Linked DNA regions of Homo sapiens: region 2 is linked to region 1. Evidence: fine-mapped expression QTL. Tissue or cell type: transverse colon. Region 1 holds a variant in brackets; the other region holds the start of a gene. All regions are shown on one strand. Distances are from middle to middle.

What was found. PIP is the estimated chance that this variant, and not a neighbour inherited with it, causes the effect. A credible set is the group of variants that fine-mapping cannot tell apart.
Region 2: IFT88 starts here. The variant in region 1 is the best candidate, but not a certain one, in a credible set for the expression of IFT88 in transverse colon (GTEx, PIP 0.62).

Annotation. Positions count from the first base shown.
Region 1 is chr13:20,507,470-20,511,860 of GRCh38, reverse strand. All of the region lies in intron 2 of CRYL1 (crystallin lambda 1), which reads left to right. Among named protein-coding and RNA genes, the nearest start is that of CRYL1, 16 kb to the left of the region's middle. The variant G/A (reference allele first, on the strand shown) is at 2,279.
Region 2 is chr13:20,565,542-20,569,894 of GRCh38, reverse strand. It overlaps IFT88 (intraflagellar transport 88), which reads right to left and starts at 2,738. Exons shown (of 26, transcript NM_006531.5): 1 at 2,639-2,738. LOC105370103 (a long non-coding RNA gene) reads left to right here and starts at 2,866. Exons shown (of 6, transcript XR_941725.3): 1 at 2,866-3,219; 2 at 4,345-4,353. RefSeq lists silencers at 2,345-2,533, 2,629-3,038.

The DNA of each region.
Region 1 (4,391 bases):
GAGGGCTGTTTTAGGGATGGTAGTCACGGGAACCAAAGAAAGGCTGAGAGTGAGGGAGGTCAAGGACAGGGGAAAGAAGCCATTGCAGCGTGCCCAGAAGCAAAGGCACTGGCGTGGAGCACCCTCACCGCATGGCGCGTCCCCCTGCGGTGCCGTCACGGAACAGGGTTCTGACCATCTCAGACACGCGTTAGCTGGTTATTATCCTTATTTGGAGGGTGTCCATGAATATATGACTTGAATTTGCATTTTTGTGCAACAAAAATATGCTTACTTTATTGTCTGCATTTTGAAAAGATTAATATGTAGGGTATAGTGTTAAACTATAGGCATGAAGAAATTATATACCCTAACCTGGTGTTGTTTTACACATTAAGAACTTGAACACAGAGAAGTTAAGTTACTTCTTCCATGTTGTTACAAATAGTCAATGCGAGGGTAAAATGTCAATCTAAAAAACAAAAACCTTGTCCAGGCCTGGTAGCTCACACCTGTAATCCCAGCACTTTGGGAGGCTGAGGTGGGAGGATCATTTGAGGCCAGGAGTTCAAGACCAGTGTGGGCAACATAGTGAGACCCCGTCTCTACAGAAAAAAAAGAAAAAAATAGCCAATGTGTTGGCACCCACCTAGATAGTAGTCCTAGCTACTCGGGAGGCTGAGGCAGAAGGATTGCTTGAGCCCAGTAGTTCCAGGCTACAGTGAGCTATGATTGCACCACTGTACTCCAGCCTGGGCAGCAGAGTGAGACTTTGCCTCAACATAAATAAAATAATAAAATGCAAAGCCAACCAGACAAAAATCAAAAGTAAAACAACACCGAAAAACCACTCACATAGACTGTACTGTTTTGGAAGGAAGGGGACTTGGCATTTCAGAACCAACTACCTGCCAGCCATGTTCTGTTCACTAGGGATACATAGTGGATAATGTAGACACAGTCTTTTTTTTTGCCACGGAGCTTGTGGCCTAGTAATCTTACTGTATTAAATTCTCGTAATAAACCCTTTTGCCTGAGCTCAGGAGTTGGAGACCACCCTAAGCAACATGGTGAAACTCTATCTCTACTAAAATCAAAAAAATTATCTGGGCATGGTGGCGGGCACCTGTAATCCCAGCTACTCGAGAGGCTGAGACATGAGAGTCACTTGAGCCTGGGTGGCGGAGATTGCAGTGAGCTGAGATCACACCATTGCACTCCAGCTTGGGCTACAGAGTGAGACTCTGTCTTGAAAAAAAAAAAAAAAAAAGATTCACTTGGTGTTTACACTCTATGGATTTGGAGAAATGTATACTGACATGTATCTACCCTTGTAGTATTACACAGAATAATCCCACTGCTCTCAAATTCTTCCTTTCCATCCCTCCCTTCCCCCCAACCGCTGGCAACCACTGATCCTTTTACGGTCTCCACAGTTTTACCTTTTCCAGAATGTTATATAATTGAAATCATACAGTATGTAGGCTTTGCAGACTGGCTTCTTTTACTTAGTAAAATGCATTTAAGTTTCCTCCATGTCTTTTCATGGCTTGAGCTTGAATGATATTGCATTGCCTGGATGTACCACAATTTATTTATCTATTCACCCACTGAAGAACATCTTGGGTGCTTCCAGGTTTTGGCAATTATGAGTAAAGTTGCTCTAAATTCCATGTGCAGGTTTTTGTATGGACATAAGTTTCCAACTCCTTTGGGTGAATACCAAAAAGCACAATTGCTAGATTGGATGGTAACAGGTTGTTTAGCTTTGTAAGAAATTGCAAAACTGCCTTCCAAAATGGCTGTCCTATTTTGCATTCCCACCAACAATGAAGGAGAGATCCCATTGCTCCATATCCTTACCAGCATGTGGTGGTGTCAGTGTTCTGGATTTTAGCCATTCTAATAGGCAAATAATGGTATCTCCTTGTTTTTTTGTTTCTTGTTTTGTTTTGAGACAGTCTCCCTCTGTAGCTCAGGCTGGAGTGCAATGGCACGATCTCGGCTCACTGCAACCTCTGCCTCCCAGGTTCAAGCGATTCTCCTGCCTCAGCCTCCCGAGTAGCTGGGATTACAGGCGACTGCCACTACGCCCAGCTAATTTTTTTGTATTTTTAGTAGAGATAGGTTTTCACCACATTGACCAGGCTGGTCTCAAACTCCTGACCTCAGGTGATCCACCCGCCTCGGCCTCCCAAAGTGCTGGGATTACAGGTGTGAGCCACCAAGCCTGGCCTAATGGCATCTCCTTGTTTTGACTTGCATTTCTCTGATGACATATGATGTGGAGCATCTTTTC[G/A]TATGTTTGTCATCTGCATATCTTCTTTGAGTAGTACTTTTTAATGTAAAAACATTTTTGATTAAAGGGGAAGCCTTAAAATTTTTTCTTTCTGCATTTGCTGCGACTCTCTGTGCATAAAAACTAGTTTTATGAAGGATCCTGAGATTTTGAAAAGAGAGGCCCTTCAGGGATTCTGGTCCATCATAGTGCTGGAAGTAGAAGTCTTCAGGTAGTCTTGAAATAAATTTTAAGCCTCAGTAAAAATAGCTCAAAGTCATATAGTCAGGAGAAAGAAAAAAAAAACCCTTGATAGAGCACTAATTCTAAAAACAAAACAAAACAAAACAAAAAACTATGAGGCAAAAAGATGTTTTCAGATTGAATCAATTTTTTTTTTTTTTTTTTGGGGATTGAGTTTTGCTCTTGTTGCCCAGGCTGGAGTGCAATGGCGCGATCTTGGCTCACTGCAACCTCTGCCTCCTGGGTTCAAGCAATTCGCCTGTCTCGGCCTCCCAATTAGCTGAGATTACAGGCACAAGCCACCACGCCTGGTTAAATTTGGTATTTTTAGTAGAGGTGGGGTTTCACCATGTTAGTCAGGCTGACTCCTGACCTCAGGTGATCCACCCACCTCAGCCTCCCGAAGTGCTAGGATTATATGGGATTATAGGTGTGAGCCACTGAGCCTGGCCCAAAATGTTGTTGTTGTCAGTTTTTTTTTTTTGTTTTTTTTTTTTTTTTTTTTTTTTTTTGGAGTCTCGCTCTGCCACCTAGGCCGGAGTGGAGTGCAGTGGAGCGATCTCTGCTCGCTGCAAGCTCCACCTCCTAGGTTCATGCCATTCTCCTGCCTCAGCCTCCTGAGTAGCTGGGACTACAGGCGCCCGCCACCACGCCCGGCTAATTTTTTTTTGTATTTTTAGCAGAGACGGGGTTTCACTGTGTTAGCCAGGATGGTCTCGATCTCCTGACCTCGTGATCCACCCATCTTGGCCTCCCAAAGTGCTGGGATTACAGGCGTGAGCCACTGCACCCAGCCCAAAATGTTTTTAAAAGGCATCACAGGAAATGTAACACAAACAGCTTAATATTTGGTTTTATGGAGGTGATTTAGGGAGCAATAGGAAGTAATTTATTGATAATAAAAAAGCCGTTAATTTTATAATTGTAAAGAATGTTAAGGAATTTGTGGTCTTCCTGAGTAAATTACATCTACTTAATTAAATTCATCTTTTATTCCCACATTTGTGTATTAAAGAGCATAGCAAGCTCCACTTTGGAAATGGTGGCTGCTAAAAAATGCTTCTCCTTCTGTCCTTGAGGGCTATCCTGGCTTTTCAGGAGGCCTGGACATTTATTTTATTTTATTTTTTTTGAGACCATGTCTGTCTCCATCACCCAGGCTGGAGTGGGGTGGTGTGATCTTGGCTCACTGCAGCCTCCACTTCCTGGGTTCAGTTGATCCTCTCACCTCAGGCTCCCAAGTAGCTGGGATTAGGGGTGTGCACCACCACGCCCAGCTAATTTTTGTATTTTTTTGTAGAGACAGGGTTTCGCCATATTGGCCAGGCTTGTCTGGAAGTGATCAGCTCACCTCAGCCTCCCAAGGTGCTGGGATTACAGTTGTGAACCACTGTGCCTGGCCAGGCATGGACTTTTTTTTTTCTTTTTTCTTTTTTTTTTTGAGATGAAAAGTCTTGCTCTGTTGCCCAGGCTGGAGTGCAGTGGCTCGATCTTGGCTCACTGCAAGCTCCGCCTCCCAGGTTCATGCCATTCTCCTGCCTCAGCCTCCGGAGTAGCTGGGGCTACAGGTGCTCGCCACCACGCCCAGCTAATTTTTTATATTTTTAGTAGAGACGGGGTTTCACTGTGTTAGCCAGGATGGTCTCGATCTCCTGACCTTGTGATCCGCCTGCCTTGGCCTCCCAAAGTGCTGGGATTACAGGTGTGAGCCACTGTGCCCAGCCTGGGCGTGGACTTTTAATCAGTTTTCTGGTGACAGTATATGCAACAGGTAGGTTTGGAGCTGAGAGACATTAGCTTCATAGCTGGCCCAGTACTGGAGAAGGAGAGTACCTCCAAGGGAAGAGGAGACCCGTGAATCTCTGATTAGGTCATGCTTTAAGCCAGCCCC
Region 2 (4,353 bases), 58 kb before region 1:
TTTTTTATTTTTATTTTTATTTTTATTTTTAGTAGAGATGGGGTTTCACCGTATTAGCCGGTATGGTCTCGATCTCCTGACCTTGTGATCCGCCCACCTCGGCCTCCCAGAGTGCTGGGATTACAGGCGTGAACCACCGCGCCCGGCCAGCTCATTCCCAAAAATCAGGTTATCACATGAATTATAAGGATCCTGTATATATTCCTGATACTAAACATTATATAAATGATTTACAAATACTTTCTCCCATTCTGTACATCATTTTACATTCTTTGTACTATCCTCTGAAGCACAAAAGTTTAAAAAAATTTTTTTTTTTTTTGGGACGGAGTCTCGCTCTGTCACCCAGGCTGGAGTGCAGTGGCGCGATCTCGGCTCACTGAAAGCTCCGCCTCCCGAGTTCACGCCATTCTCCTGCCTCAGCCTCTCCAGCAGCTGGGACTACAGGCGCCCGCCACCACGCCCGGCTAATTTTTTGTATTTTTAGTAGAGACGGGGTTTCACCGTGTTAGCCAGGATGGTCTCGATCTCCTGACCTCGTGATCCGCCCGGCTCGGCCTCCCAAAGTGCTGGGATTACAGGCGTGAGCCACCACGCCTGGCCAAAAGTTTTAAATTTTGATGATATACAATTTATTTTTCCTTTGGTTGCACGTACTTTTGGTATCATATCTAAGAAAGAACTGCCTAATCTAAGGTCAAGAATATTTATACCTATGCTTTTTTTCTAACAGTTTTAGCTCTTATATTTAGGTCATTGATCCATTTTGAGTTAATTTCTCATTACTTTTTGAAGATGAAAATTAACTACTATGAGGGCAAATGTCACCCACATAGAAATGGCATTCCAAAATAGCTTCAAAAGGTTATTAAAAGGGCCAGGCGTCGTGGCTCACGCTTGTAATCCCAACACTCTGGGAGGCCGAGGCGGGCGGATCACGAGGTCAGGAGATCGAGACCATCCTGGCTAACACGGTGAAACCCCGTCTCTACTAAAAATACAAAAAATTAGCTGGGCATGGTGGCGGGCGCCTGTAGTCCCAGCTACTCGGGAGGCTGAGGCAGGAGAATGGCATGAACCCGGGAGGCGGAGCTTGCAGTAAACCGAGATTGCCGCCACTGCACTCCAGCCTGGGCAACAGAGCGTGCGACTCCGTCTCAAAAAGAAAAAAAAAGGTATTAAAAGTCACTGGTAAAAGATATATAAAATATTTTTAATTAAAAGCTTTAGCTCAGATAATACTAAACCAGTGGTTCTTAAACCCAAGTGATGCTGAGGCTACTGGTCTGGGGACCACTTTGAGAACCACTATTCTGAACCATAATTTCTGATTATGAACCCTATTTAAGTCAGCTTAGTTGACACATAAGTTATAGAAGGAAGCAACTTTTAGAATGAGAAATCCTTTCTGCTAGGTTGTAACCAGATTTTTAAAAGGTTTGACTTGAGACTTTAGTTGAATAGACATCTTGTGGAACATACAAATATTAAAAGATGTGGAAAGTGAGGCCAGGAAAGTTGAAGGGAATCAAGCATGGCTAATAGCTATGGGTGGCAGAACAACTGTTGTTATACAACCCAGGGTTTCTGGATTCTCCAGGCAATTTCCAAAGCAGCTTATACATGTAACAAACTTTTCCATGTTGAAATAATCTGGGGATGATGCCACCTATGTTTAATATAAATCAAATGCTGGCAAAACCTTTTTTTTTTTTAAGTGAAAGGTATGTTTTTTAATACTCTTCTACTGACTATGGACAGTCTACTTCAAGCTTTTCCAACCCCGGCCCGCACGTGGCACAGGACGGCTTTGAATGTGGCCCAACACAAATTCGTAAACTTTCTGGAAGCATTATGAGATTCTTTTTTGCGATTTTTTTTAAAGCTCATCGGCTACCTTAGTGTTTGTGAATTTCATGTGTGGCCCAAGACAATTCTTCTTCCGATGTGGCCCAGGGAAGCCAAAGATTGGACACCCTTGGTCTACTTCCAAGAAGCCTACTGCAGTTTCTCGAAAAAAAAAAAACAAACAAAAAAAACTCACAACCAGAAAATCGGACTAGTAAAAGTGTAATTTTAGGCTTAGAAAGAATCTTGGGACAACAGTACTTCACGTTTTTGGAATGTTTCCATCTTTGTGAGGCTAAGTACCGCTTTCTGCATTGTTGTGTACTTTTATCTTCATTCCTGATTCAACTTTCATCAGGCAATTTGAAGTGCTTCACCTAACAAGAAAATTAAAGAGCGATGTGCACCATCTCTGCTGTGCGATTCCAGAGCTGGCGCAGTAATCTAACTGGGTTTTAAGTTTCCCCGTCAGGCGTGACTGGGACTTGGGACATCGCCAAGCGGTCAGCGACGCCCGTCCCAGTTCAGAGGAGCAAGAAAAGCCTGTGAGCTGGGGACACCGATGTGAGAAACAACGCCCGCGTTTCTGAGTAGACAACTCGGGAGCCTGAGGAAGAAAAGCAGGGGCAGGCCGAGTCCATCTGGGGCCCCGCCTCAGACCGCCCCGGGGCCGACAGGGGCGGGCAGGAGACGGGCGAAGAGGCCCTCGGCGGGATGCGCCACACAGGACGCCGCAGGGGCACGGCTGCCAGGGGCCCTGAGGCACTAGGCCCCAGCGCCCTTCTCCTACCTCACGCTGAGGGAAGCGGGCGACAGTTATTCGGGCCCAGGGACGACGCAGCGGTTGGCCAAAGCGCGACGCCGAGCCGTTGCCAAGCGCGGAATCCAAGGAAGCCGCTCCCACAGTCCTCCGCGCGGGGGCGGGCGGGGCCGGAAGCGCGGGGGCGGGAGAGAGCGCGGCGGGAAGGGGGTGGTGCGGGAGGCCTGGGGAAGTGGGTGGGGGCGGAGAACGGCGGGTCAGAGAGAAGGCAGCCCGGTCCCCCTCAGTGGAAGGGAGTGGCGGTGGGCGGAGGGTGTTGAGGGGACGGTGCCAGCGGCTTGCGGGAAGCCGGGCGATGCGGGTAGAACGGTGGAGGAGAGGGCAGGGAGGCCGGGGCCTCCCGTGGAACGGAACCGGGGGGTTGGGAGGCTGGGGGCGGCCTGTGTGAAGGGGGCGGGGAGGGAAAGGCTCGCGGCCAGTAGATGCAGGAGGGAGGAGGGCCTAGAGGGGCTCCGGGCTGGCGGCCTCTGTGAGGAAGGGGAAGGATATGGAACCAAGATCCTTTAAATCCTGATGAACTCATCCGTAAAGCAGATGCCCAAAGGATGATAGTAAGCTTACTGTGACATAACTCCCGGAGCCGCAGCACGAGCCTTGTGAACCTTGGAAGCCCGTTTTCCGCGCAGTCACTAACTCGCTTAGTCACCCTGTGTAAAAGTTATTCTGGGATGACACCTGCCTGGGAAGTCTCACCTTTCCCCCCACCTCCTCCTGTCTGCGTATTGTTCTGTAGCACCCCGTGCGCACCTTGATTGTAGCGCTTAAGGTGTCCGTTTTATTTACTAGACAGGGATTGAACCATTGTGTCCCAACCACCTAGAACCTGGGTCATAGTGTAAAGCTTAATCAATGTAATATAAATGGGGGAATTAAATTCATAATTGTTTAATGTTTAAGTTTTGTCTTAAATTTTAAAAGTAAATGTTGGGGATGGAGGGGAGGGACAGAGGGAGTCTAAAGACACCAGTAATTAATGAGTTTTTATAAAATAAGTAGTGTTGGCCGGGCGCAGTGGCTCATGCCTATAATCCCAGCACTTTGGGAGGCTGAGGCTGGCGGATCACCTGAGGTGAGGAGTTGGAGACCAGCCTGGCCAACGTGGTGAAACCCTGTCTCTACTAAAAATACAAAAATTAGCCCGGCGAGGTGGCAGGCGCCTGTAATAAATCCCAGCTACTCAGGAGGCTAAGGCAGGAGAATCTCTTGAACCCAGGAGGTAGAGGTTGCAGTGAGCCAAGATGGTGGTATTGCACTCCAGCCTGGGTGACAAGAGCGAAACTCCATCCAAAAAAAGAAAAAACATAGTGTTGGGGGACAATTCTCCATGGGTCACCTGCACTTTCCCGTGTTTTGTGAGCAGAGACACTGACTGCCTTTGTTCTGGAGTACTATGATAGCTGGTATTTTTTAAGATGTGATTAACAGTTAAATTAGACTTGAGTAAAGCAGTTGGTCCTCCACAAGGTGGGTTGGCCTCATCCCGTCAAGGGAAGGTCATAAGAGAAAAGACTAAGGTCCTCTGAGGAAGAAGGAATCCTGCCCCCAGACTGCCTTCAGCTCTTTCCTGGGTCTCTAACTTGACCTACAAATTTTAGGCTTGCCAGCATTATAAATAAAGTTTTGGTGCCGCAAAAGAAATAGCACTCAACTATAAAATTTTCTTTTTTCCTTCTCAGCAAGGCAAT